Homo sapiens: one gene and its partners. The protein of the gene in region 5 purifies or fractionates together with the protein of the main gene of each other region. This does not show direct contact. Each region holds a gene or a part of one and is shown on either strand. Other genes may lie near its edges.

Region 1 (4,017 bases), on a different chromosome or scaffold from region 5:
AGAAACTAGCATTTAAAGGGTGATGCATATAATGAGGAAGGTGAGTAAGAAATAGGATGAGACTGGGCATAGTGGCTCACGCCTGTAATCCTCAACACTTTGGGAGGCAGAGGCAGGCAGATCACTTGAGGCCAAGAGTTTGAGACCAGCCTGGCCAACATGTATCTGGAATAGAAAAAGCTACATGCCTGGGTGACAGAGAGAGAGATTCTGTCTCAAATAAAAAATAAATAAATAAAAATAAATAAATTAATTAAAAAAAAAAAGAAAAGAAAAAAGATTAAATCTGGCATTTATTAAGCACACACATTGAGCATCCCAGAGACTGAGTCAGGTCTGACATGGTCTCACTTGATTCATGCAATCACTCTTTGACTGTATTTTTTGAAATTGCCAGATCATAGGAATCTATGCAGGTGTGGGGTTGTGGAATGACGAGGAGGAGAAGGAAGAGGTTAGGACTGAAAGCTGAGGCAAGTTGGAAAACATTGTCCCAGGAGTAAGGCATTTTCATTCCACTTTTCCTGGGGAAGAAACAGAGTCTCTAAGAGATTCCATGGCCTGCCCAAGGTCACACAGAGTGTAGCGATGATGCTCATGTGGAGGATATAATTTCAATTGCCAATATTTCCTAAATGCTCATCTCGCTAAGGACTTCAGGTGCAAAGTCAATGTTTGAACCTTGAGTTCAAGTCTTAGTTATGTCATGGTCCACAATCTTGCTATTACGTCATATATCAACCTTCCTTGAAAAAACATGGGGACACATCCAGTGAAAATCTGAAGGAAGTGGGGCTGCTGAGACCAGAGAAGAAAAGATGGGGACAGATGCATGGTAGTTGTTCCCAAATATTGAAAGGCTGACACTCTGTAGGCAATCACACTTATTCTGCATGACTTATTTTGAATATCCTCCACTTTATTCAGGGATGCATTTTGGTGAAGCCCACTAAGCTTTTGGGATCTTTCAGCGATGGGTGGAAGTCATATCCCTGACAGATTAATACAATGAGGAACTCTGAGAGACAGAGCTGTCCAAATATAGAATAAGATGATTTCAACATAGTGTTGCAGGAATGCCCCAGCAACAGAGGTGTCCAAGCTGGATGACCTCTGAGGGGGATGTTTTAGGGGGATTTGATGTATCTGGAATAGAAAAAGCTACATGACACTTAAGTTTCTTTCCAACTTTGAAAGTTTCATTTTACAGAAGTTGGTATTTACTCTATTTACAAATGGATTTTAAAATCAGGGAAGGGATGTAAAGTGGGTCAGTATTACCGACCAGATGGGGAGGGAATTGCGTCATTGAAAGCTGTGACCAGTCAAGGGTTCCAGCGAGTAAATCAGCTCAACCATTGAGTAGTTCTAACCCTCACAGTGCATCAAAATCACCTAGGGAGCTTTTAAAAATGACAGACACTGAAGCCACATTCCAAACCAAGTGAAGCTGAATCTCTGGGGATGGGCCCAGGAATTGGTCATTTTTAAAAGCTCCCCAGGTGGTGCTAATGTGCAACCAAGATGGAGAATCCCTGAGCTAGAGGAAATGAAGCCCGCGCTGAGGCTGGGCGTGGTGCCCTCTGAGTCTCAGGATGACCAGCAATCAGTTCATCTCTGCATCAGGGCCAGTGGTGGCCCCTCCGGCTGGAGGGAGTTGGTGGGAAACTGGAAGACAGGAAGATACAGCCCTTTAACCCTTTAATGCCTAACTTCTAGTTATTAAAAAATGTTCACAAATTCATAGAGATGGGAAGTAAAATGGCGGTTGCCGGGGCCTTGGGGAGGAGGGAAGGGGAATGGAGAGTTACTCTTTAATGAGTACAGAGTTTAAGTTTGGGAAGGTAAAAAAGTTCCAGAGATGGCTACAGGTGATGGTTATACAACAATGCAAATGCATTTAATGCCACTGAACTGTACATTTAGAAGTGGCTAAAATGGTAAATTGTAGGTTATACATATTTACCACAATATAATTGTTAGATGTTTAAAGTACACTAATTATAATGAAAAGTATAATTAAATACATCAACCCATCCTAATGTAAAATGTTAGCACTTAGTCAAATTTTGTTGTCTTTTTACAGGGGAAAAAAAAATGAAACTTTGCAGATAAAAAAAAAAAAATTCAGAGGGATTTATCCCAGGACTAAAAGAGTGATTCAACTTAAGAAAAACAATCAGTGTAAGGCACCACACTAACACAATGAAGGAAACAAAAAACAAGCCACAGGATTATCTCGAGTGATACAGAAAACAAGCATTTGACATAAAATTCAACACCCCTTTGTGATTAAAAAAAAATGATTAGAAAACTAGAAATAGAAGATGATTTCCTCAACACAAAGGACATTTATGAAAAGCCCACAGCTAACATCACGCTCACTGGTGAAAGGCTAAAATCAAGAAATCCCCCTAAGATCAAGAACAAGAGAAGGATGTCTGCTTTCACCACTGCCACTCAACATTATACTGAAAGTTCTAGCCAGAGCAATTAGGCAAGAAAAATAAATAAAAATCATTCAAATTGGAAAGAAAGACGTAAAACTATTTCTATTCACAGTTGACATGATCCTATGTATAGAAAATCCCAAAGAATCCAGAAACAAAAAAGCTACTAGAGCTAATAAATTCAGCAAAATTGCAAGGGACAAGATCAACACACAAAAATCAGCTGTGTTTCTACACACCAGTAATACACAAGCCAAAAAGGAAATTAAGAAACAATTCCATTTATGAAAGCTTTCAGAGCATCTGAGGATTGGATATCAGAACAGTCTTGCAGTCTTTTGAAGTGGAATCATCTTGTTAGTAACGGTCCTTGGCAGAGGCACATGCATCAGAGCCTTTAATTTTATATGCATATTAGTGCATCTCATATTAAAATTAAGTAGAGCAAATAGATTTGATGGGGTGGTAGTGTGAACTGCACAGGACATGTGTAAGAACCTGAACCACATCCACAGGCAGGTCAGAGTGGCCTGGGTCTCAGCCATCCTGCCTCGCTTCACGTCTCAAGAGTCACAGGATGCTGGGAAGCAAAATCGCAGGCCTCTCGGAGGAAATCAGGCCTGAGTCAGCCTTCCCAGGAGGTTAAGGGAACAGATGAGGCCCAGGAAACGGTTTACTGTGGAGGGTGTTTTTCGCTAGACTAGTTGGAGGGGTATTTTTAAGTTGAAGAAGGAACTAAAAGTGTTTTTAATTATTATTTTTTGTGTGTGACTAGGGGCCAGAAAGACGAAGTGTTTGCCAAGTATTGCCACATTTCTTAGCTCTCCATGTTCCAGAGACTCGAAAAGTTGATAGATGCTTCCATCACAGAGATAGCTGTCTTGACCCTAATATGTTTCTGTTCCTCTCTCTAGCTAAGAGGTAAGTAACATCTGCTGAGATGGAAACGCTAGGAAGATAAAAATTCCCAGTGATTTGCTGAAAGGGAATGAGCCCTAAACTGAAAGCCAGGAGCCCTGCATTCTAGGCGGGCTTCTGCAGTACCCCAGTTGTGTAGCTCTGAGCCCATCCCTTCCCTTCAGTGGGCCTTGATTCTTGCCTGTAAAGGGGAGAAGAGCAGGGGTTGGGAGGAGTGGAGATCCTTTTAACTTTGACATTCTGGTTTTTCTTAAAGGCCAAACCCTTCAAGAAGTCAAAAGAACTTTAAAAGAAGAGGGAAGTGACACTGATTGGAAATAGGAAGGCAAAAATAGAGACAAATTGTAAAAGATGGATAGGAGATTTTTCTATTCTAGGCCACTCCTTTCTACTGGGCCCAAACTGAGTTGATACCAGAGGTTCACAGGGACTCAGGAGGGGGCTAGATTAGGCAAGAAAGGAAAAACAGCACTCCTTTAAAAAAAAGATGGAGTTTCACTCTTGGCCCCCAGGCTGGAGTGCAATGGCATGATCTCGGCTTACTGCAACCTCTGCCTCCCGGGTTCAAGCAATTCTCCTGTCTCAGCCTCACGAGTAGCTGGGATTACAGGCACCTGCCACCACACCCGGCTAATTTTCATATTTCTAG
Region 2 (4,017 bases), on a different chromosome or scaffold from region 5:
TTGCTTTCTTAATGCAACCTCCGCCTCCCGGGTTCAAGCGATTCTCCTGCTTCAGCCTCCCAGGTAGCTAGGACTATAGGCACGCACCACCACATCCAGCTAATTTGTGTATTTTTAGTAGAGACGGGGTTTCACCATGTTGGCCAGGATGGTCTCAATCTCTTGACCTCGTGATCCACCTGCCTCGGCCTCCCAAAGTGCTGAGATTACAGGTGTGAGCCACAGCTCCCAGCCAGAAGTTCTTAATTATAATGAAATCCAATTATTTATTTATTTATTTATTTATTTTGAGATCAAGTCTTACTCTGTCGCCCAGGCTGGAGGGCAGTGATGTGATCTCAGCTGACTGCAACCTCTGCTTCCTGGGTTCAAGCAATTCTCCTGCCTCAGCCTCCTGAGTAGCTGGGATTACAGGCGCCTGCCACCACACCCAACTAATGTTTGTACTTTTAGCAGAGATGGTGTTTCGCCATGTTGGCCAGGCTGGTCTTGAATTCCTGACCTCCCAAAGTGCTGGGATTACAGGCATAAGCCACTGCACCCAGCCCAATTTATTATTATTTCTTAATGATTAGTGCTTGTATTGTATTTTTAAAATGTTTGCCTACCCCAGGCTGGGTATGGTGCCTCATGCCTATAAATCCTAGCACTTTGGGAGGCAGAGGCAGGCAAATAACTTGAGTCCAGGAGTTCAAGACCATCCTGGGCAACATGGCAAACAAAACCCTGTCTCTACCAAAGATACAAAAAATTAGCTGGGCATGGTGGTGTACGCCTGTGGTCCCAGCTATTCAGGAGGCAGAGGTGGGAGGATTGCTTGCGCCCAGGAGCCAGAGGTTGCAGTGAGCTGAGATTATGACACTGCACTCCAGCTTGGGTGACAGAGTGAGATCCTGTCCCCCGCCCCCCAAAAAAAATTGCCTACCCCAAGGTCATGATGATATTTTCTGTTAACTTCTGGTAATATTATTGTTTGCATTTCACATTTGTGACTATAATTCATCTTGAATTAATATTTGTATATGATGTAAAACAGGGGTTAGTGTTCTTTTTTTCCCCATATATCACCCAATTTTTTATTTTATTTATTTATTTATTTTTTTTTTTGAGACAGAGTCTCATTCTGTTGCCCAGGCTAGAGTGCAGTGGCGTGATCTCGGCTCACTGCAGCCTCAACCTCCCAGGTTCAAGCGATTCTCCCACCTCAGCTTCCCAAGTAGCTGAGATCACAGGCACGCGCCACTAGGCCCAGCTAATTTTTGTGTCTTTTGTAGAGACGGGGTTTCGCCATGTTGCCCAGGCTGGTCACGAACTCCTGAGCTCAAGCGACTGGCCCAACTTGGCCTCTCAAAGTGCTGGGATTACAGGCCTGAGCCACCACGCCTGGCCTATATTATTCAATTTTAATTTATATCACGCACACAGCTTACAAAGAATCCTTCTAAGAAGCCATAGACTGAAGAGAACAACAATGACGGCACAAGTGAGCAAAAAGAAAACAGCCGACCTCTCACTGCTCCTCCTGGGCGTAAGGTCTTCCTTCACTACATTATGAAATAAAAGCAGTAACGGGTTAACTGGATCTGACAAGAAATGGGCCAAAAAAGGCAGGAGGAGGGGTTGGTATCTTTTCAAGACTATTTGAAACAAGGTTTTATATCCATTATCATTAAAAGAGAATTCAAAGTATGAATCCATCACAATCAGCAAGATATGTATCCAATGAGAACAGGAAAAAAAACTTCCAGGCTGTTTTCATTAAGGGAGAAATTGATCTCACTAAAATTAATGATAAAAGTTAAGAAGCTTCTTTGGAATGTATGTAAAACATACAATACATAAGTATATGTATATGTAATTTATAAATAAATGAAGGTATTTGGGGTTATGTGCTCATGACAGCTTTCCTGGTAGTTACGTGTTTGAATTAAAAACAATCATACAGTGGCTCACGCCTGTAATCCCAGCACTTTGGGAGGCCAAGGCAGGTGGATCACCTGAGGTCAGAAGTTCGAGACCAGTCTGGCCAACATGGTGAAACCCTGTCTCTACTAAAAATGTACAAAAATTAGCCGGGAGTGGTGGTGCTCACCTGTAATCCCAACTGCCTGGGAGGCTGAGGCACAAGAAACGCTTGAACCTGGGAGGCGGAGGTTGCGGTGAGCCGAGAACACACCACTGCGCTCCAGCCTGGGTGACAGAACGAGACTCTGTCTCAAAAATAAAATAAACTAAAATAAAATCATAAAAATAAAAAGAATCATAGACCAGCAACTTAGGGGATGGCATTTGGGCCTGGGCACAGCACTTTAGAACTTGGACAAACCAGAGTGCTTCCAGCTTGGTAGTGGAGGGGACGGGGTGGGGACCAAGATGCAGAGGGGGGTTGATGCTATGTCACCATCCAAAACACATTGTAAGGCCCTGGCACTGTTTCTGCTGGAGAAGAGAAAGAGGTTAGAAGAGGGAAAAGCATTAATCTTATGTCTGTAATCTTATGTAAAGGACAGAACAAAAATAAAATAGGAATATCCATGAATAAAGTTCTGGAGACTGAGGCAGGAGAATCGCTTGAACCCAGGAGGTGGAGGCTGCGGTGAGGGAGATCGTGTCATTGCGCTCCAGCCTGGGCAACAAGAGTGAAACTCCGTCTCAAAAATAAATAAATAAATAAAGATGAAAATGCTAGGGTTTGGGGTAGTTTCCCAATTTTCCCAAGGTGCATAGCCATGATCAGTTGGCTGAAGGTGTATATGCGTCTGCGTGTGTGTGTGTGTGTGTGTGTATGTACCTGTACACACACATATATGGTATACGTGTATATACATATGGTGTGTGTGTGTCTATATACACATGTATATACTTATCCTTGTATTAGTAACATGTGAGGCACATCATTAAAAGATGCATTTTCGGCCTGGTGTGGTGGCTCATGCCTGTAATCCCAGCACTTTGGGAGGCCGAGGCAGGTGGATCACTTGAGGTCAGGAGTTCAGGACCAGCCTGGCCAACACAGTGAAACCCCGTCTCTACTAAAAACACAAAAATTAGCCAGGCGCGGTGGCATGAGCCTGTAATCCCAGCTACTCGGGGGGCTGAGACAGGAGAATCACTTGAACCTGGGAGGCAGAGGTTGCAGTGAGCCAAGATCACGCCACTGCACTCCAGCCTGGGTGACAGAGCAACACTCCATCTCAAAAAAAAAAAGTTAAAAAAATGCATTTTCACTCATCATATTGGCAAAAATTAAAAAGATGAATAATACCCATGGTTGATGAGGATGTGAAGAAAAAGACACTGTTATTACTGGTGGAATCAGAAGATGCTATAATTCTTTCAAGGGCACTCAAAACTTGGCAAAATTGTCAATGTGTACACTTTTTGGACAGCAACTCTACTTCTAAAATTTTACACTCCAGAAAGACTTGGACATGCTCACACCCAATGTTCTCTATTGTTGATAACAGTAAAAAATAAGAAACAATCCAAACAATTTGGGTGTAGCCAAATAATTTGTGGCACATTCTTTTTTTTTTTTTTTTTTTTTGAGACAGAGTCTCACTCTGTCGCCCGGGCTGGAGTGCAGTGGTGCGATGTCGGCTCACTGCAAGCTCCGCCTCCCAGGTTCACACCATTCTCCCGCCTCAGCCTCCCGAGTAGCTGGGACTACAGGCGCCTGCCACCACACCTGGGCAATTTTTTGTATTTTTAGTAGAGATGGGGTTTCACCGTGTTAGCCAGGATGGTCTCGATCTCCTGACCTTGTGATCTGCCCGCCTTGGCCTCCCAAAGTGCTGGGACGACAGGTGTGAGCCACCGTGCCCGGCCAGCACATTCTTATAATAAAATTGTGGGCCTAAGCCGGGCACGGTGGCTCATGCCTATAATCTCAGCACTTTCGGAGGCTGAGGCAGGTGGATCACTTGAGGTCAGGAGTTTGAGACCAGCCTGGCCAACATGATGAAACCCTGTCACTACTAAAAAATACAAAAATTAGCCAGGTGTGGTGGCACACGC
Region 3 (4,017 bases), on a different chromosome or scaffold from region 5:
GCTCATGCCTATAATGCCAGCACTTTGGGAGACTGAAGCAGGAGGATCATTTGAGTCCAGAAATTCAAGATCAGCCTGGGCAACAGAGCAAGACTCCATCTGTACAAAACACTTTAAAATTACCTGACGTGACAGTAACATGCCTGTAATCCCAGCTACTTGGGAGGCTGGGATGGGAGAGTCACTTGAGTCCAGGAGGATGCAGTCAGCTATGATCACGCCACTGCACTGCCGCCTGGATGACAAAGTGAGATCCTGTCTCTAAGAAAAGAAAAAAAAGAGGCTGGACATGGTGGTGCACACCTGTAATCCCAGCACTTTGGGAGGCAGAGGCAGGCTGATCACCTGAGCCCAGGAGTTCAACACCAGCCTTAACATGGTGAAACCACAACTCTACAAAAAAAAATACAAAAATTAGCCAGGTATGATGCTGTGTGTCTGTAGTCCCAGCTACTCGGGAGGCTGAAGTGGGAGGATCACTTGAGTCTGGGAGGTCAAGGCTGCAGTGAGATAGCACCACTGTACTCCAGCCTAGGTAACAGAATGAGACCCTGTCTCAAAAAAAAAAAAAAAAAAAAAAGAGAGAGAGAGAGATAAACCCTCTCTAACATGGTTAATTGACTGTGACATGAAGGGTGCCAAAACCATTCAATGGGGAAAGGACAGTCTTTTCAACAAATGGTGCTTGTAAAATTTGGTATCCTCAAGCAAAAGAATGAAATTGGACCCTTACTTTATACGATATTGAAAAATTAACTTAAAATGATCAATAACCTAAATGTAAGAGCTAAAACTATAAAACTCTTAGAAGAAAACATTGTGGAAAATCTTCATGATATTGGATTTGGTGATGATTCCTTGGATTGACACAAAAAGCAAAAGGTAACAAAAGAAAAAATTAATTTGACTTAATCAGAATTTAAAATTTCTGTGCAAAAAAGGACACCATCATGGGAGTGAAAAGACAAACTACAAATTGTGAGAAAATATTTGCAAATCATATATCTGGTAAGGGATAAATATTCCCTATATATAAAATATATAAATACAATGCAATTCAAAAATGAGCAAAGGATTCAAATACACATTTCTCCAAGAAGATATACAAAAAAGGTCAACAAGTACATGAAAAGATGCTCAATATCACTAGTTGTTTAGAAAAATGCAAATCAAAACCACAATGAGATACCACTTTTCACACCAAATAGGATGATTACCATGAAAAAGAAAAATAAGTGTCAGTGAGCACATGGAGAAACTGGAACCCTTACATATTGCTGATAGAACTGTAAAATGGCACAACCACTACGGAAAACAGTCTGGTGGGTCCTCAAAAAGTTAAACATAGATTGACTAAGTGAAATAAGGCAGTCAAAAAAAGACAAATACTGTATGTTTTCACTTACATAAGATATCTAGGGTAGTCAAACTCTTAGAAATAAAGTAGGATAGTGGTTGCCAGGGGTTGGGGGGAATGGAGAAATGAGGAGTTGTTTAATGGGTACAGAGTTTCAGTTTTGCAAAATGAAAAAGTTCTGGAGTTTGGAGGCACAACCATGTGTACATACTTAACAGTTGTGTTAAGTATGTACTTAACATAATTAAATACTGTTAAGATAGTAAGAAAAAGATTTATTTTTTATTTTTTTATTATTTTATTTTATTTTATTTTTCCCCCAGAGACAGAGTTTCGTCATGTTGCCCAGGCTGGTCTCAAACTCCTGGGCTCAGGCAATTCTCCCGTCTTGGCCTCTCAAAGTGCTGGGATTACAGGCGTCAACCACAATGCCCAGCCAAAATGGTAAATTTTGTATGTATTTTACCATAATCTTTTCTTAAACATAGAATTACTCATATGACTCAGCAATTCTATTTACAGCTAAATACCCAAAAGAATTGCAAGCAAAGAACCAAATAGATACCTGTATATCAATATCCATAGCAGCATTAGTCACAATAGCCAAAAGGTGGAAACAGCCCCACCATCGACAGATAAAATATGACATATATACACAATGCAATATTAGCCATAAAAAGGAATGAAATTCTAATATATGCTACAACATGAATAACCCTGAAAACACTATGCTAAGTGAATTAACTCTAACACAAATGGATAAATATTATATTAACCCACTTATATAAGGTACCTAGAATAAGCAAATTCATAAAAACAGCAAGTAGAAGATATTAGTGGGTGGGAGTGAAACTGCCCCCACAGGGTTCACAAGAAGTGCATGCCAGGTTCTGGACAGAAATATAGTTATAATTAAGCATTAATCAGGCCGCACTTTGGCCCACTTCCTGGTTGCTAAAAGTCATATAGCACTAGATACTGACTATTTGCATTCCTATTGTTCCTACAGAATAGGATTTCTGACATTAGGGTCATAAAACTTTAAGATTTTATTTCTATCCCCATCTTTCCTATAACAGGATCTCTGACATTATAATCATAAGGCTTTTGTTTAAGGATTGCTTAATATGTTTTTCAGACCCCTGAATTCCAGCAACCAGTTTGAAGTCCCCCACAGAGGAACGGGATCTGCAAGAGAATACAGCTTCTTCATCTCCCTGTCCCATGACTTCATCCTGTACTCTTTAACAAATAAACAATTGCCACACTTCGGCCCACTTCAAAACCCTTAAAAAACCTTAGCCCCCATCTCTTACGGGAGATGAATTTGAGGTTTTCCTCCATCTCCTCATTTGGCGGCCCTATGATTAGACCTTTCTCTGCTGCAACCTGGAGTCTCAGCTTATTGACTTGCTGTGTGCATTGGGCAATGAACCCATTTACAGTTACAGAAGGGAGAATTAGTGAGTTAACGTTTCATGGGTACAGAGATTCTGTTTAGGTGATGAGAAAGTTCTGGAAAAGGATAATGGAGATGGTTGTACAACATTGTAAATGTAATTAATGACACTGAACTGTACACTTAAAAAATGGCTAAGATGGTAAATTTATGTTATATATATTTTACTGCAATAAAAAGTATTTTAGAGAAAGACACATTAGAAAGAAAGAAGCTGGAAATGGTACATAGAGACAACTCTATGGAGTTGTTTTGGTCCAAAAAAAAACAAGACATGGGAAAGTATACCTATTAATAAAAGAAACAATAGGGGCTGGGTGTGGTGGCTCTTACCTGTAATCCCAACACTTTGGGAGGCCGAGGCAGGCTGATCACTTGAGCCCAGGAGTTCAAGAACAGCCTGGGCAACAAGGTGAAACCCCAACTCTCCAAAAAATACAAAAATTAGCTGGGCATGGTGTCATGCACCTGTAGTCCCAGTTACTCTGGAGGCTGAGGTGGGGGGATCATCTGAGTCCAGGGAGGTCAAGACTGCAGTAAGCCATGATCACACCACACTGCACTCTAGCCTGGGTGACAGAGCGAAACCCTGTCTCAAAAAATAAAATAAAATAAAATAAAATAATAGAATAAAATAGGTTGGGCGCGGTGGCTCATGCCTATAATCCCAGCACTTTGGGAGGCTGAGGTAGGTGGATCACTTGAGGTCAGGAGTTCAAGACCAGCCTGGCCGAAATGGTGAAACTCTGTCTCTACTAAAAATACAAAAATTAGCCAGGTGTGGTGGCAGGCGCCTGTAATCCCAGCTACTAGGGAGGCTGAGGCAGGAGAATTGCTTGAACCCGGGAAGCAGAGGTTGCAGTGAGCCAAGATTATGCCACTGCACCCCAGCCTGGGCAACAGAGTGAGACTCCATCTCAAAAAAAATAAAAATAAAATAAAATAAAGGGGAAATAACAGAGCCAAAATATTTGGGTTTTTTTTTTCCTTAAAAGAATTTTTTTAACATGTTAATGGTAATACTTAGTAGTGAAAATACAATGTAGAAAAGAGAGGGGAGAATTTCTTAGGCAATGCCTATTAGTAGGCAAGTGGAAATGGAATGTACAATATAAACAGAAATAATGGACTTAGGAGCATGAGTAGTTGATCCATAGTACAAGGTATAAAGGCCAAGTAACTGGGTAAAGATGTGTGTTGA
Region 4 (4,017 bases), on a different chromosome or scaffold from region 5:
TGGCCAGTAACCCTTGCTGTGGCTCACACTATCCAGCCCATTGCATTCCTCCCATCTATAAGATCTACCCCTCTGGAGGGCCATTCCTGCTAGGCCTTGGCCCTCTTCTGTTGAGCACATCGTTTCCACACTGTGGGCCATGTCCAGCCTCAGCTAAACCTGGACTGCCCGTTCCACATTGATTGGCATGGCCAGGATGCAACCTCACAAGCTCTCTTCTCCAGCAAAGACTCTTGGTGGGTCCCGGGAGACAAGGACTGCCCCTTCCTCTTCGTGGGACCATGCAGAACAAGCTCCACCCCCTCTGACAGGCCACATCCCCACCTCCGAAGGCCTGCTTATCTCTCCGATGCTTCCGCTTCCCCTCCAGCAGAGCCACCTTCTGGCCCTGAAGCTCCACCTCTGTCATCCCACCTCCAGGAGGTTCTCCCACTACCAAGAGCCACCCTCCCACCAAAAGACTTCCAATCAGGGCCCCGCCCCTTCATAAAGGTCCACCCACTTCTCCAACTCCACTCTACCCACCCCTGACTGCCATTTCAAAGACCACTGCCACCCACCCCAGCCACCCTCGGCTGCCCTGGCTTTAAGCCTTCCTCCTCCTCTCTTCATCTCTCCTCTCCAGAGCCCTGGATTCCACTTGCTCCTTCCCCTAAATAGCCAGTTGCTAGGGGCTTCCCCCACCCCTTTTCAAGGACAGAGGCTGGCTCCTTAAGAAAGCTTCAGCCCAAGTGTCTCTAATTGGCTGCAGAATTAAAGCAAGCAGCTAAGCAGGCTTCTGGTTGGCTGCCACCTCCGCCCATGACAGCGTGAGGAAGTTAACCCCTGCGGCACCATAGCATAGGAATCTGCAATGGGGGTTGGAGAACTGGAACTGGGGCCCTACAGGGAAGAGAAGAGTCCCAGGGTCTGTTGCCCAGCTGGGGACAGGGGGCCATCAACATCTGCATCCATGCAGGGTCTGGGGGCTTGTGAACCTCCCCCACCCCACCATGTGGTGGCCATGGCTCAGAGCAAAGGAAAGAGAGGGACAGAGAAGTGGAGAGTCACAGAAGCTCAGAATTATTTACAGAAATATATTATCCATCTCCCTTCCAAGCAGTGGGTGCCCAACAAATGTGTGTCAGTGTATAAAGGACAGCTTTGCTACTTTCTGTGTGACCTTGGGCAAGTGACATCCCCCACTGAACCTCAGTTTTTCTGTCTTTGAAATGGAGAGGGGGTCATCACGCCTTCATAGCGGAGCTGGGAAGATCAAGCTTGGAAGTTCGTTGTGAAGGTTTGTGTTTTGTTCATTTGTTTGTCCTCATGTTTGTAAGGCTGGGCCAGGATCTAACCTATCTCAGTAGGCCCAGGGCCCAACACAAGATGGGCACACAGTAGGCATCTACTCAGTGTTTGGGACCAGAATCAAAAAGAGAGGGAAATGAGGAAGACAGAGACAAAAGAAAAGGGAGGCTTTTTTTTTTTTTTTTTTTTTTTCCAGAGGGAGTCTCGCTCTGTCACCCAATGGCGCAATCTCCGCTCACTGCAACCTCCGCCTCCCAGGTTCAAGCGATTCTCCTGCCTCAGCCTCCTGAGTAGCTGGGATTACAGGCACGTGCCACCACATCTGCCTAATTTTTGTATTTTCCGTAGAGACAGGGTTTCACCATGTTGGCCAGGCTGGTCTTGAACTCCTGACCTCAAGTGATCCGCCCGCCTCAGCCTCCCAAAATGCTGGGATTATAGGCATGAGCCATCGCGCCCGGCCAAGAGGCATTTTTTTCATTCAACCAACACTGGGAAAGCACCTACTATGTGCCACACCTATGGCCAAGAAAACACTGGAAAGGCAGAGATGGAGGCCAAGAGGCAGGTTTCTCGGTGAAGATCTGACAGCCAGGAGCTGGGGCTCTCCACAGGTAGGGAAACAGCTCCAGCCCCGCTGGCATCTCCAGGTGAAGCCAAGCAGATGACTGAAGCATTTAACTGGTGCTCTACAATGTGCATGAGGGAGGCAGAGCTAGAAGGAGAGACATCCATGTGGCAAACTACCATTTATCAAGTGCCTACTGTGTGACAATTCTGTGGCAGAGAGCCATACTAAAAAACTACCAAGATGGGCCAGGTGCAGCGGCTCACACCTGTAATCCCAGCACTTTGGGAGGCCAAGGCAGGAGGATCACTTCAGCCCAGGAGTTCAAGACCTGTCTGGGCAATATAGCAAGACCTCATCTCTACTAAAAATTTTTTTAAATTAGCCCAGTGTGGTGGTGCACACCTATAGTCCCAGCTACTCTCAGGAGGTAGGAGGATTGCTTGGAGCCCAAAAGTTTGAGGCTGCAGTGAGCTATGATCATACCACTGCACTCCAGCCTGGGGTGACAGAGCAAGACCCTGCCAAAAAAAAAAAAGAAAAAGAAAAAAAAAAACTACTGAGATGGAGAGACATGGCAAGGCCAGGACTGCAACTCATAGTGTACTATGGACCACGACCTACTGGGCTATAAGCTCCCTGAGGACAGGGTCTGGGTGGTTTCCCTGTGTCCCCAGCACCCAGCTCAGGAGTTTGCACAAAGCAGGGGCTCTGTGCCTAACGAGGGCAGAGAAGGTAGAGACAGACAGAGAGGTGAAAGGAGAAATAAGGAGGCGATGGGAGAAAATAACTCTTTTTTTAAAATGTCTGTTGACACCGTATGGTCTGTCCCCACCAGGGCAATGGCTTCAAACCCAAGTGAGGGTGGAAATAACATATTTTTCTCATACGTTTTGTTTTCTGTTTCTGTAATGTACCCAATGTGTTGGTTCAGTAGTACTGGTATATAATTTATAAATATAAATGTCGCTGTAGGCTAGGCACGGTGGCTCACACCTGTAATCCCAGCAATTTAGGAGGCCAAGGCAGGCGGATCACTTGAGGTCAGGAGTTCAAGACCAGCCTGCCCAACATGGTAAAATCCTGTCTCTACTAAAAATACAAAACTTAGCTGGGTGTGTTGGTGGGTATCTGTAATCCCAGCTACTTGGGAGGCTGAGGGACGAGATTCGCTTGAACCCGGGAGGCGGAGGGTTTCAGTGAGCTGAGTTCGTGCCACTGCACTCCAGCCTGGGCAATAGAGTAAGGCTCAGTCTCAAAACAAACAAATAAATAAATGTCACTGTAAATGTGTGTGTGTGTTTCATGCTCCAAAATGTTTAACTGAAGAGGTGCACAATCAGATTGTTGTGGGGAGCAGTGATATCGACCATGAGCCCCATGAGGGCAGGGTTCATGCTGAGCTCAGTCACTGTTAGGACTCCAGTGCCCAGCCCTGGTCGGGTTCATGTAGGTGCTCAGCGAATATTTTCTATAAGCACGAAAAACAGAGACAGTGAGAAATAGAGAGAGGAGACAGGGCAAAGGAGGGCGGGAACAGCTCTCACAGCCATCTAGAACCCTGGCTGAGCAAGAAGGCCAAGGGAATGGGCAGGTGGGAGGGAGGGTCCCCCTGGGCTTGGGAGGAGGCCCTGGGACTGCAGCACCCGCACCCACCTGTAGACGAGGGAGTCATCAACGGAACTGTTGTACTGAACCTGGTACATGCGTATTCCGGGCACAGGCCTCTGGGCTGGCCAGCGGATGAGCACGGAGTTCGAGGTGAGCTCGGCTGCCACGAGCCGACGCTCAGCCGCAGAATCGTTGGCACCTGGTCTGCCCGGCGTGGCGATGTCAGAGGAGCCGGGCTCGGTGAGAGGCGGCGGGGCAGCCGGCGGGGGTGCCATCAGAGGCAGAGGTACCACGCACACCTCCACGGGCGCCGTCGCTTCCCCAGCAGCATTGGAGGCGATACAAGTGAAGGTGCCACTGTCCCTCAAGGTGGTGATGGTCACATCCAGCGTCCCGTCCCCCCGGACCCGGGTCCGGCTGGAGTTCCCCAGCAGCCGCCCATCAGGTGCCACCCAGTGCACCACCGGCTCGGGGTCACCCACCGCTCGGCAGCGCAGGCTCACCGCCTGGCCTTCCACCACCAGGGCCCGGCCCCCCGCCTGCCGTGT
Region 5 (4,017 bases):
CAACGGGATGCATACGGTCTGTGGAATACCATTTGCTTCAGGTCCAGGGATGTAGAAAACTCCCCTTGGTTTAGTCTTCACACTAAAGGGCCAGGACAAGCCCTTGGAAGGGAGGTTTTAGTGTGAAGTGGTTAGCCGTTACCTGTGCTTCGAGTTCTGTTTGTGTCTTAGTTTGGATTCCCCCAAAAGTAGACCCCAAGACAAGGATTCAGAGGTAGACGTTTATTTGGGAACTGATCCCAGGAAGCACAAGAAAGGAAGTAGGGACAGTAAGGCGGAGATGGAGGCTCATAAAGGGTACATTGATGAACAGGTTGCTGCTCACGTGTAGGATATCAAAACTGAATTCTTTAAAAAATCTGAACTCCTGGTTTTTCTGTCAAACCCCATCTCTCCTAAGGATGCCCTTCCAGTTATTTTGGCAGAATACTTAACTCCACACCTTCTGTTTTCTCCTGCAGTCTGTCCACTAGAAATTCTAATGACTCTGCCTTTACCTCCGTTGCTACCACCCTGGTCCCAGCCACCATCCTCTCTCATCTGGGTCATTACAGTGGACTGCAAGCTGGCCCGCAGCTTCCCCCATAACCTACCCTCTGTTGTCTAATCTCAACAACAGAGCCAGAGCAATCCTTTGGAAATGTAATTCAGGTCTTTGTCATTCCTCTGCTCAGAATCTTCAATGGCTGTCCATTTCATCCATAGTAAAAAATAAAGTTCTTCTGGAGGTCTCCCAGCCCTAGACGGTCTTACTTCTTATTGCCTCTCAGATGTCATCTTACATGGCTCCCAGCACACACTGCTCCATCCCTCCTGTTGCCTTAGCTTCTCCCTTTGTTGTGATGTTCTTCCTCCATTTATCTCCATGGCTCATCCCTCGCCTCCTTCACACCTTCTTTGATCCCATTTTGATGAATGAATGACATGAGAAGTTTCTGGTATAGTTTGTAGTGTAGGTTCCTGTACAGTTAGGTGCTATATAAATGGTAGCGACTATTATTATCTTATTTAATTCCCACAATAGCATTATGTGGTAGCTGCTAGTATTATCCTTATTTTATGGCGAGGTAAACTGAGGCTCAAAGAGGTTGGTTAGCCTAGAACAGTGGCTCTCAAAATATTTTGACTGACCCACAGGAAGGAATACATTTTACATCTCAATCCAGTCCATGCTTGCTTATGTGGGTATGTACATATATATAATAGAAACAAAAGTTTCTCAAGCTCATAATTAGCCTTATGACATTTGATGCATTCTGATATTTTCTACTCTGTCCTAGTCATTTATTTTTTAATTGCTAGTTTTAAACCACCAAGTTGAGTTTAAGAACCCCTTTTGACAAAGACTATCCAAGCCTTTAAATCTGTACCTTTAATTCTGTGTTACAGCTTTTCCCTGTGGCAACATCTGAACTAGCTTTGTCAAAAATTATTAGTGCTAAAAACTCCTCAGTACCCAGCTGAGTCAATACGTGTAACATTATAAGCTTATGTCTTTTTCTGCTGATCTCTGTAAAAGATGGTAAGGGTTTCTTCATACAAATAGATGTAAAGAAAGTATAGTAGGATTAAGGAAAATTTAAATGACTAAGAGAAGAAAAAGGAAGGGAAATTATCAAGTAGTCACAAATAGAATAATTTTTTAAAAAAATAGAGGAATTAAAATTTACCATTTACTTTGAAAGGATGGTAGGCGGGAGTGGACAGAAACTTGGTACAGTCTGACCAAAGTAGTTGTTTGTGGACAGGCTAAAGGCATCATCTCTAGAAGCAAAGTCCTGTGTCTCAGTCGGTTAAATTGAGTCGCATCTTATCAGGGAGTCAGAAGGAATTGTATACCGTGTGTGGCCACTCCCAGGTTGACAGCCTAGGAGACTCTGGGCTCTTCCTGAAGAGCCTGGTGGCTGGGGTAACCAGCAAAGGCCAGAAGAGAACCTACAAATGAGCTGGGGTCAAGTTTGGTTCATCTACAGTTTGCCCGCTAGAGAAAGATAAAACCGTCACAGATAGTTACTTGGGATTCATGTAATCTTAAAAATAAATGTCTTAACAATATTTGAAAGAAAATATGGCATTATAAAATGAAAGGGATGAGCCAGCTGTGGTGGCTCACACCTGTAATCCCAGCACTTTGGGAGGCCGAGGCAGGCAGATCACGTGAGGTCAGGAGTTCGGGACCAGTCTGGCTAATATGGTGAAACCCCAACTATATAAAAATACAAAAATTAGCTGGGCGTGGTGGTGCACGCCTGTAATCCCAGCTACTCAGGAGGCTGAGGCAGGAGAATCGTTTGAACCCAGGAGGCAGAGGTTGCAGGGAGCCAAGACTGAGTCATTGCACTCCAGCCTGGGCAACAGAGCGAGACCCTGTCTAGAAAAAAAAAAAAAAAATGAAAAGGATGAGGTGTTAGAGGAACAGAAGCCTAAATAAAGGGTCAAATACACAGAGTCAGGCATTGTCTCTGCATGAAATGGCTTTGTCTGCATCGAGAGTATGGTGGGGTTAATCTGCCCACTTTCTTTGATACTGAATTAGATGCCTATTAATCCTGCAATTTCTGAAAGTTAAGTGCACATTTGTTGAGTTTTCTTTAGATGAACTCTTTGCAACAACCCTGCAAGAGGAGGGCACAGTTGTCATTCCTAACTCAGGTGAGGGATCTGCCACACCGAGAGGCTAACAGAAACACCCAAGGACAATCAGCCAGCCTGCAAGGAACTGGCATCTCAACCCAAGTGTCTGGCACCAGAGCTTGCACTCTACCACTAGGCCTCCTCTTCTCATGTTTAGATTTGAAGAGCATTTCAGTGAAATATCAGTTTAAACTCTTTAATTAAATTTAGAACTAGGCTAAAGTTTCCTTTGTGCTATTGTTGAAAATGTGATTTGGTAAGAAAATAGTATTCATGAGATTGCAAGGCAAATAGCATAAGAAAGAAAACAAACTTATTCTTCAACACTTCTAATCTTTTTTTTGTTTTTTTGTTTTTTTGTTTTTTTTTTTTTTGAGACAACGTCTTGCTCTGTCAACCAGGCTGGAGTGCAGTGGCGCAATCTTGGCTCACTACAACCTCCACTTCCCAGGCTTAAGTGATTGTCATGCTTCAGCCTCCTGAGTAGCTGGGATTACAGGCACATGCCACCACCCTCGGCTAATTTTTGTATTTTTAGTAGAGATGGAATTTCACCATGTTGGCCAGGCTTGTCTCGAACTCCTGACCTCAAGTGACCTGCCCGCTTTGGCCTCCCAAAGTGCTGGGATTACAAGCGTGAGCCACCGTGCCTGGCGTAAACACTTTCATTAGTAATTAGCAAATAATTTTTTGCTTTCCAAATTCTTTTCTATTTTTAAAGGTCTCTTGGCCAGGCTCAGTGGTTCATGCCTGTAATCCCAACACTTGGGGAGGCTGAAGCAGGAGGATCTCTTGAGCCCACGAGTTGGAGACCAGCCTGAGCAACATAGTGAGGCCCCATTTCTAAAAATAAAAAATAAAAAAAATTACCCAGGTGTAATTAGTCCATTTTCACAATGCTAATAAAGACATACCTGAGACTGGGTAACTAACAAAGAAAAAGAGGTTCAGTGGACTCACAGGTCCATGTGACTGGGGAGGCTGTGTAATTATGGCAGAAGGCAAGGAGTGCAGGGCACATCTCACATGGTGGCAGGGAAGAGAGAACTTGTGCAGGGGAACTCCTCGTTATGAAACCATCAGCTCTCCTGAGATTTATTCACTATCACAAGAAGAGCATAAGAAAGACCTGCCCCCATGATCCAGTTACTTCCCACTGGGTGCCTCCCAGATGTGGGGAATTGTGAGAGCTACAATTCAAAATGAGATTTTGCTGGGGACACAGCCAAACTGTATCATTCCACCCTGGGCCCCTCCCAAATCTCATGTCTTCACATTTCAAAACCAATCATGCGTTCCCAACAGTCCCCCAAAGTCTTAACTAATTTCAGCATTAACTCAAAAGTCCACAGACCAAAGTCTCTTCTGAGACAAAGCAAATCC
Region 6 (4,017 bases), on a different chromosome or scaffold from region 5:
TACAGGCGTGAGCCACCGCACTGGGCCAGATGAAATCTTTCAGAAAAGGCTTTGACTACCAGGCCCACCGCCCTGTGTCACGGTCTCTGAGGCTGGACACCTGCATCTCAAAAAGTCAAGTCGACCCAGGGAACGTTAACTTTTTGCTTTATATAATATTATGTTGTTTAAACTCTCTTATGAAGGTTCCTGAACACACAACAACATAAAAGCAGTAAAGAAGCTGAGGGATAGCTCGCTCACCTGGCAGGATGGTGTTCGGGAGACTCCCGCAGTTGGAATACGGGCTTGGTCTCAAATGAAAAGAGTCCTGCAGTTCTCGGGAACCTTGTTGCACCAGAGGCACCTGGAAGCATCGAAGGTCATGTGAGGAAGGCCACACCTCTGTTTCCAAGGAGGAAGTGAGTATTGCAATGTGCTCCCAGAGCAAAACCTGACTTGCAAACTAATCCATATTCCCTTCTTTCCAGGATCCCAGAGTGCTTTGCTCTTATGGTAATGCATGCACAATATTCTTGTCAGGCAGGCAGACGCTGGGGTGGAGGAGGGGTCCCTGAGGTCCACAGCGTGGTGACTTTTCCCCAGCCCACTACACCATCCCAAGAGACACCAATGCTCATGGTTTCTGTGGCCCCTCAGACATCTGTCCTCAGCCTCACCAAGGCCTTTGCAAACTGCCTTCTGTGGGAACCCTTCAAAGGCTCTGTCTATAACCAAGGAAGTATGGACTCTTCTTCCTTGGTTTCTTTCTTCTTTTTTTTTTTAAAGATAGGGTCTCTGTTGCCCAGGCTGGAGTGCAATGGCGCCATCTCGGCTCACTGAAACCTCCAGCTCCCAGGCTCAAGCAATCCGTCCACCTTAGCCTCCCAAATAGCTGGGACCACATGCCACCATGCCTGGCTAATTTTTGTATTTTTTTTAGAGACAGGGTCTTGCTGTATTTTACCCAGGCTGGTCTCAAACTCCTGAGTTCAAGTAAGCCACTGGCCTTGGCCTCCCAAAGTGCTGGGATTATGGGTGTGAGCCACTGCACCTGGCCTCTTCCCTGGTTTCTAGAAAACTGAGAAAGGGGAAGGCTTTCCTTTTCACACTCAGAAGGAGGAAACTCAGGCAAGCTCCTCCCTATGAGAAAGCCTCTATGAGGACTGGTTATAACCAGTGCCAATTTTAGGTTCCTTTCCTGAAATTAATTTTCTAAGCCATTTTAAAAAAAGTCTCAAAAGAAGTGTCTATCATTTTTCAGGGAGACGGTGATTCCCACCTAGACTAAAATGGCTCTTTGGGAAACAGGGAGGCAAGGAGGATTGGTTCTTGCCACAAAGCTTCATCTGTGGCCTGCTTAGGAAACAGCTATCTTAATTTATTTTATTATTATTATTTTATTTACTTATTTTGAGACAGAGTCTTGCTTTGTTGTCCAGACTGAAGTGCAGTGGTGCGATCTCAGCTCACTGCAAGCTCCGCCTCCCGGCTTCACGCCATTCTCCTGCCTCAGCCTCCCGAGTAGCTGGGACTACAGGTGCCTGCCACCACGCCCAGCTAATTTTTTTGTATTTTTTAGTAGAGACAAGGTTTCACCGTGTTAGCCAGGATGGTCTCGATCTCCTGACCTCATGATCCGCCCGCCTCGGCCTCCCAAACTGCTGGGATTACAGGCGTGAGCCACTATGCCCAGCTATTTTATTAAGTTCTTGGCTGGGCACAGTGGCTCGCACCTGTAATCCCAGCACTTTGGGAGGCCAAGGCGGGTGGATCACTTGAGGTCCGGAGTTCAAGATTAGCCTGGTCAACAAAGTGAAACCCCATCTCTACTAAAAATATAAAATTTAGCCAGGTGTAGGGGTACATGCCTGTAACCCCAATTACTCAGGAGTCTGAGACATGAGAATCACTTGAACCCAGGAGGTGGAGGTTGCAGTAAGCCGAGATCACGCCACTGCACTCCAGCCTAGGCGACAGATTAAGATTCTGTCTCAAAAAAAAAAAAAAAAAAAAGTTCTGGAACCTGTTCAACCCTTCTTCCACTCCTTAATCCATCGGAGGGCCCAGTCCATACTTATTGAATACTATTGAATACTATAAAATCTAGAATATTAAAAATAGTCAATGTTAGGAAAAAACTAAACTGTAAAAGAAAGTGGCCGAGTTGAAAATACCTTACGGAACGCACTCCCCTCACTCCCCAGGACTGAGCTCTCCCCAGGAGGCCCCACGCTGTGCTGGGTGCACCAGCCTGGGTGCAGGCCAAATGCGGCGCCACCTTCTGACTCTGCGGTGGGAGCAGGCGCCACTCTCCCTATGCCTCAGTTTCAACATGAGGGCGCTGAGGAGGCAGGTGCTGTGTCCCTTCCAGTGTTCATGATTTTACAGTTCTACAACGAGAGTGTCATCAAAAGTCTCCTGCCGATTGTTCCAATAGTTCCTCTGCTGAAGCCTGATACTAAATAAGGCAGCCAGAGAAAGCATTTTAGGGCCAAAGAAGATGAAAGGCTCTTCTAGCCACAGAACACAACCAGAACCAGGAAAGTGGCATGTCTGGTCTGCTCAGTTCTGAATTCTACAGAATGAACAACCTAAATGGTACAGTTTATGCACCAAGGGAGGAGAAGGCAGGGGCGATCACCCACCTGTTGAGGAAAGGCAGGGCCTGGCCTCATGGACTGCTGGTCAAAACCCACATCTGGGAAGAAGTTGGTCAAAGATGAGCCCTTCAGGGAATAAGGAGATGATCATTTAGCTTGGAACTCAGAGCAAAACAAGCATTCCCTCTGCACCAACGCTCCTGCCAGAACTCACCTGGGCCGGGAGAAGCTGAAAGTCTGACTGTGGCAGTGAGGAGGCTGCCTGGGGCTGCTGGGCAGGGGCCTCAGGGGCGCGGGGCTGCTGCAGGAGGGGCTGGGTGAGCTCCTGGGGTGCAGGGTAAGGGGGTGGCGGCGACACCTGGGCTTGAGCTTCTGTGGGCAGAAAGGAAAGTTGGCTTCGGTCTGAGGACACCATCTGCAAAACAAACACACAAAGCCACTAATGAGCTTCTGCGTTTCTGGCGTTAAGTCCTTTAGGATTAGGAAATGTCAGAGTGAGAGGAAGCCTGAGATTTTCCTCACCGCGGTGTTCTGTGCAATGCTGTGAGAAGCCCGTTTCTCATCCTTCAAAGTATATCTCAAATTTTACTTCCCCACAAAGCATGTTCCATTCAATGACAAGTTCTATTGTCTTAAAAGAACTAAACAAGAAAACAGCCAATTTAACCAATTTCCTTTCAGTTTTCTCCGTGAAAATCATGTTTTGTTTTGTTTTATAGCCGTGTCTTCTGGTTAAAAGTGGAAAATTGAAAAAGGCCCTTAGCTCTGTCATCCCCAAATCCTGTTAAAACAAGACACTACAACATTAACAAGCAATAAGCATTAATAAAAAACACTAAACAACAGCACAGAACACTAAATGATAACAAACAACACGAGGACAAAGATAACGGGAGAGAAGAAAATGGCAACAAAAGCTGGAAAATGAGCAGCAGATGGCCCGGTGGCAGCTGGCTTAGCAGAGCTGAGAAAACCCGATGCTAGGCTGGCAGTGAGGAAAAACCAGGAGGCAATCTCACTGACAGCACTCAGTCCCCACAGGGCTCTGGGACTGGGGACAGCAGGGAGCAGGCGGTGAAGCTAAAACCAGGAGATTCTGGTCACAGTTTGTGTAAGGGGCAGTTGGACCTGCAGAGCCCTTGCCTTGAGTGTGCTTCTGCGCACTGGCCCCCACCATCCTGCCACCTGCCAGGAGACTGGAAGGTTCTACTTTCGAGATAATAAAACTAAGGGTCTCTGGATATTAGAAGGTGAGGCACTTTACTGAAAACACAGGGTTTAGAAGAAATTTCTTTTTCTTTAATATTTTATTTTTTTAAGTTCTAGGGTACATGTGCACAACATGCAGGTTTGTTACATATGTATACACGTGCCATGTTGGTGTGCTACACCCATTAACTCGTCATTTACGTTAGGTATATCTCCCAATGCTATC
Region 7 (4,017 bases), on a different chromosome or scaffold from region 5:
CAGCACACATCTGCAGCTGAGCCCACTGGGGTCAGGGCTGACACTGCCACAAGCCCACCTCTGCCTCCCAGGAGCCATATTCTGGGAGGCCAGGTGGGGGACTCACTCACCTGTTTTGCGGAGGGGGAAGTCGTCTCGACTGTCGTAGGGCCCAGGCAAAGGCAGTTTGTAGGAGGGAGGCGTCCCAGGGGGGCCGCTCTGGGGAGGGGAACTCTGGTCCAAAGAAGCATGGTGGGCTCCCCTGGGGTGGGGGGGGGGTGGGGATGGAAGCAGATCTAGGTTATCACCCAGTCTGCTGGACCTGCCACCTGGCAATCTACATTTATGAAAAATCGTTTGTATATAGGAAGAGGACGTGGATCTTGGGGAAGGAATGAGGAAATAAACCAGGGATGGGGGTCCTGTCTCTAAGGAGAGATTGCAGGGCCCGTATATGGGCACGGGGAAGAAGCCCCTTGCCATCCTATAGCCAGGCAGCCCCTGAGCGGCTCACCTATGCCCACCCATGCCTGCCCAGGGCCATTACCAGCATTTGGGGTGCTGTGGGAGGGAATGGTTGAGGCCGCCTGGTGTGGGCTCCTTTGACTTCGACAAGAGGAATTCCTGGAGCCTCAGCTTTACCTCAGTGCTGGCAATGGCACCTGCAGGACAGGGCACAACTGACCTGGCTGCTTGGGGCCAGACCCCCCATGGCAGGGGCAGGCATCACGGGCGGGGCCCTACGAGGTCCCAGGAGGCCCTGCCTTACTCTCTTTGCTCTTCTCCTTGTTCCGCAGGATGAGCAGCTGCTGCTCCAGCCGCTGCTTCTCCAGCTCTTCCTGCCGCTGCTGCTCCCGCTGCCGCTGCTGCTCCAGCTCCTGCTGCCGCTTGGCTGCCAGCATCTCCTGCTGCTGCTTGGCTGCCAGCATCTCCTGCTGCTGCTGCAGGGGCATGGGAACGGAGGCACAAGTGAGCCAGGCCCGGGCGGGGATCGGAGGTCTGGGCGGCCCCCCGCACCCCCCTCGCTCACCTTGAGGTGCTTCTGCAGCTGGACCTCATGCTGCCTTGTCAGGTGGTCATGCTGTTTCTGGAACTCAGCGAACAGGAGCTGCTTCTGCAGCTGCTGCTGCTGCTTGAGCGCCAGGAGCTCCTGCTGCAGTTGCTGCTCCCGCAGTGTGGGGTCCACAGAGCCCACCAGAGCCCCCCGTAGCTCCACAGGGCTGGGGCTGCCTCCACCCCCACCCCCCATGGAACTGGGCATGGCTCTTGGCAGCACCGGCTTCACCTCCACTGTGGGCAGAAGAGACAGGAAGGAGTTAGTGGGCCCAGCCCCAGACTCCAGTCATGCCTGAGGCCCAAAGGCTACCACGCAGGATTCTAGGAGACCCAAAGAGAACAGAGACAGAGAGGAAGTCAAATCCCTCTGCTCCATGGATGCAACATTTTACCTTAATTAAATGAGGCTGAAGCCATGAACTTCAATAGGAAAATACAGGCTGAGCACGGTGGCTCACACCTGTAATCTCAGGTTAGTTTGGGAGGCTGAGGCAGGCAGATCACCTGAGGCCAGGAGTTTGAGACCAGCCTGGTCAACATGATGAAACCCCCTCACTACTAAAAATACAAAAATTATTTGGGCGTGATGGTGCACACCTGTAATCCCAGCCACTCAGATGGCTGAGGCATGGGAATCTCTTGAACCCCGGGAGGCGGAGGTTGCAGTGAGCCAAGATCATGCAACTGCACTCTAGCCTGGGTGACAGAGCAAGACTGTCTCCAGAAAAAAAAAAAACAAAAAACAAAAAGGGGGAGGCCGGGCGCGGTGGCTCTTGCCTGTAATCCCAGCACTTTGGGAGGCTGAGGCGGGTAGATCACGAGGTCAGGAGATCAAGACCATCCTGACTAACATGGTGAAATCCTGTCTCTACTAAAAACAAAAAAAATTAGCTGGGCGTGGTGGCACACGCCTGTAGTCCCAGCTACTCAGGAGGCTGAGGCAGGAGAATCGCTTGAACCCTGGAGGTGGAGGTTGCAGTGAGCCAAGATCGCACCACTGCACTCCAGCCTGGGCGACAGAGCGAGCCTCCATCTCAAAAAAATAAAGAAAATGTGCATAAGCATGAAGCTGTACCTGACAGATTGTGACTACTCGACGCATTTTATGTATCTGTGTGTGTGTGTGTATATATATGTGTGTACGTATGTGTGTGTATATATATATATACACACACACATACATATGTGTGTGTATTTATCTCTCTACCTATATATATATCAGAGACAAGGTCTTGCTCTGTCGCCCAGGCTGGAATGCAATGGCATGATCGTGGCTCATGACAGCCTCGACCTCAAGCAACCCTCCCACCTCAGCTTCCCAAGTAGCAGGGATTACAGGAGCATGCCAATGCACCAGGCTAATTTTTAATTTTTTAGTAGAGACAGGGTCTCACTATGTTGCCCAGGCTGAATTAAACTCCTAGGCTCAAGCGATCCTCCCACCTCAGCCTCCCAAAGTGCTGGGATTATAGGCGTGAGCCACTGCCCAGCCTTCAACACATAATATTATCATTGATAGTCAACATCTCTGGGCATTTTACAATGACTCATTTAAATATCACAGTTACCCTATGACTTAGATGCTATTATTACCCCATTTTACTGATGAGGAAACTGAGGTTTAGAGAAGTTTAAGTAGCAACCAGACACAGCTAGGTGATCCAATAACTAGAATATGAGTCCAAATCCTAAGCTTTTAACCACTGTGCCCGCTCCCATTTCTCAACACCGTGCCCCATGCAAAGCCTCATACTAGAAGAGAAACTGAGGCACAGAGGTTGGTTCTAGGACTGACAGTGCCCTTGGTAACCCCAGGAGAGGCTGGTGGAGACCTTCTGGATATCTCTACCCTCTGTCCCCTTCTGGGGCCTCATCCCTATCTGGGGCAGACTGGGCAGGAGGGAGAGGCTGTGGGAATGGGGGTGGGGTGGGAACAGGAGGCCTCGGGGAAAGGGGGTGCAGGGCTGCACCAAGCCAGGGACAGGAGGGGGCTGGGAGTCAAGACTCGCTTCCTTTGCTGGATTATCTCCTTTCAACAGTTTTATTGTAATTACCCTGAAAATGCCGCTATATATAGAGTGAGCCAAACAGCAGCTGTGCCTGGGGGGAGGGGGAATAAGAGGATGGGCGGGCAGGCAGCAGGGAGGAGGTGGGAGGAGGAGACAGGAAAGGAAAGGGAATCAGACAGGAAGAAGGGTAACAGCAGGGGGAGGGCAGGAGCTTCGGCAGAGATCTCAGAACTCTGGTCTTACGGAGAACCGGCTGGGGAGAGGAAGGCTGCTGGGGAGGGGAAGGCAGTGGAGGGCCTGCTGGGTTCCAAGACCTTGGGTCCAGTCCCCACATGGACAATGGGCCGAGTGGCTCAGGGAGTGCACGAAGTTCCAATGGGCTTATGGGAGGGCTAGGTCTCCACTTCTTTGTACCTACACACAGTTCTCAGGTCACTGCATGTCACTCCTCACCACTGCCCTGTGGTTGCCAGGACAACTGGGCAAACACCACACCAGCAGGGAGCCCCAAGCCCAGCCCAAGCCCCACAAAGTCTCCAGCCAGGAAGGGGAAGGCAGGATACCACTGCCTGGGAAGGCGGAAGTGAGAGAGGCAGGCCAACCCATTCCTGTTTCTCTTCTACTTCTTTCTCCAAAGAAAGCCCTCACTCTCCTCGCTACAGCCCAGGGAGGTCACGAGGGGCTGGGAAGACTCCTGTGGCAAAGTGGCCCACTCCAGCCCAGGCCTGAGAAAAAAGGACCCCGAAATCCTTCTGGCTACCAGTATCTTCTGCCTTCATGAGCTGGCCTCTCTCCAGACCACCCCCCAGCATTAAGAGGCGAGAGAGGGAAAAAAAAAACAAAAAACAAGTTTTGGTTTTTTTTTGTTTTTTTTTTTTTTGGAGATGGAGTTTTGCTCTTGTCATCCAGGCTGGAGTGCAGTGGCACAATCTCGGCTCACTGCAACCTCTGCCTCCTGGGTTCAAGCAGTTTT

The links.
Region 1: the proteins of ZBTB21 (region 5) and NAV1 purify together in Homo sapiens (affinity purification with mass spectrometry, with the first as the bait; one large-scale study listed by BioGRID). This does not show direct contact.
Region 2: the proteins of ZBTB21 (region 5) and CBY1 purify together in Homo sapiens (affinity purification with mass spectrometry, with the first as the bait; one large-scale study listed by BioGRID). This does not show direct contact.
Region 3: the proteins of ZBTB21 (region 5) and TESK2 purify together in Homo sapiens (affinity purification with mass spectrometry, with the first as the bait; one large-scale study listed by BioGRID). This does not show direct contact.
Region 4: the proteins of ZBTB21 (region 5) and LRFN1 purify together in Homo sapiens (affinity purification with mass spectrometry, with the first as the bait; one large-scale study listed by BioGRID). This does not show direct contact.
Region 6: the proteins of ZBTB21 (region 5) and CRTC3 purify together in Homo sapiens (affinity purification with mass spectrometry, with the first as the bait; one large-scale study listed by BioGRID). This does not show direct contact.
Region 7: the proteins of ZBTB21 (region 5) and HDAC5 purify together in Homo sapiens (affinity purification with mass spectrometry, with the first as the bait; one large-scale study listed by BioGRID). This does not show direct contact.

What each region holds. Positions count from the first base shown.
Region 1 is NC_000001.11:201,541,610-201,545,626, reverse strand, and holds part of NAV1 (neuron navigator 1), read right to left. Parts: intron 1-4,017. UniProt on the Homo sapiens protein: May be involved in neuronal migration.
Region 2 is NC_000022.11:38,659,392-38,663,408, reverse strand, and holds part of CBY1 (protein chibby homolog 1), read right to left. Parts: intron 1-4,017. UniProt on the Homo sapiens protein: Inhibits the Wnt/Wingless pathway by binding to CTNNB1/beta-catenin and inhibiting beta-catenin-mediated transcriptional activation through competition with TCF/LEF transcription factors.
Region 3 is NC_000001.11:45,452,784-45,456,800, forward strand, and holds part of TESK2 (dual specificity testis-specific protein kinase 2), read right to left. Parts: intron 1-4,017. UniProt on the Homo sapiens protein: Dual specificity protein kinase activity catalyzing autophosphorylation and phosphorylation of exogenous substrates on both serine/threonine and tyrosine residues. Phosphorylates cofilin at 'Ser-3'. May play an important role in spermatogenesis.
Region 4 is NC_000019.10:39,310,417-39,314,433, forward strand, and holds part of LRFN1 (leucine-rich repeat and fibronectin type III domain-containing protein 1 precursor), read right to left. Parts: coding exon 3,515-4,017; intron 1-3,514. UniProt on the Homo sapiens protein: Promotes neurite outgrowth in hippocampal neurons. Involved in the regulation and maintenance of excitatory synapses. Induces the clustering of excitatory postsynaptic proteins, including DLG4, DLGAP1, GRIA1 and GRIN1.
Region 5 is NC_000021.9:41,996,567-42,000,583, reverse strand, and holds part of ZBTB21 (zinc finger and BTB domain-containing protein 21), read left to right. Parts: intron 1-4,017. UniProt on the Homo sapiens protein: Acts as a transcription repressor.
Region 6 is NC_000015.10:90,637,426-90,641,442, reverse strand, and holds part of CRTC3 (CREB-regulated transcription coactivator 3), read right to left. Parts: intron 2,998-4,017; coding exon 2,797-2,997; intron 2,709-2,796; coding exon 2,628-2,708; intron 402-2,627; exon of another isoform or gene 347-401; coding exon 244-346; exon of another isoform or gene 186-243; intron 1-185. UniProt on the Homo sapiens protein: Transcriptional coactivator for CREB1 which activates transcription through both consensus and variant cAMP response element (CRE) sites.
Region 7 is NC_000017.11:44,092,566-44,096,582, forward strand, and holds part of HDAC5 (histone deacetylase 5), read right to left. Parts: intron 1,270-4,017; coding exon 1,010-1,269; intron 921-1,009; coding exon 749-920; intron 642-748; coding exon 527-641; intron 242-526; coding exon 111-241; intron 1-110. UniProt on the Homo sapiens protein: Responsible for the deacetylation of lysine residues on the N-terminal part of the core histones (H2A, H2B, H3 and H4).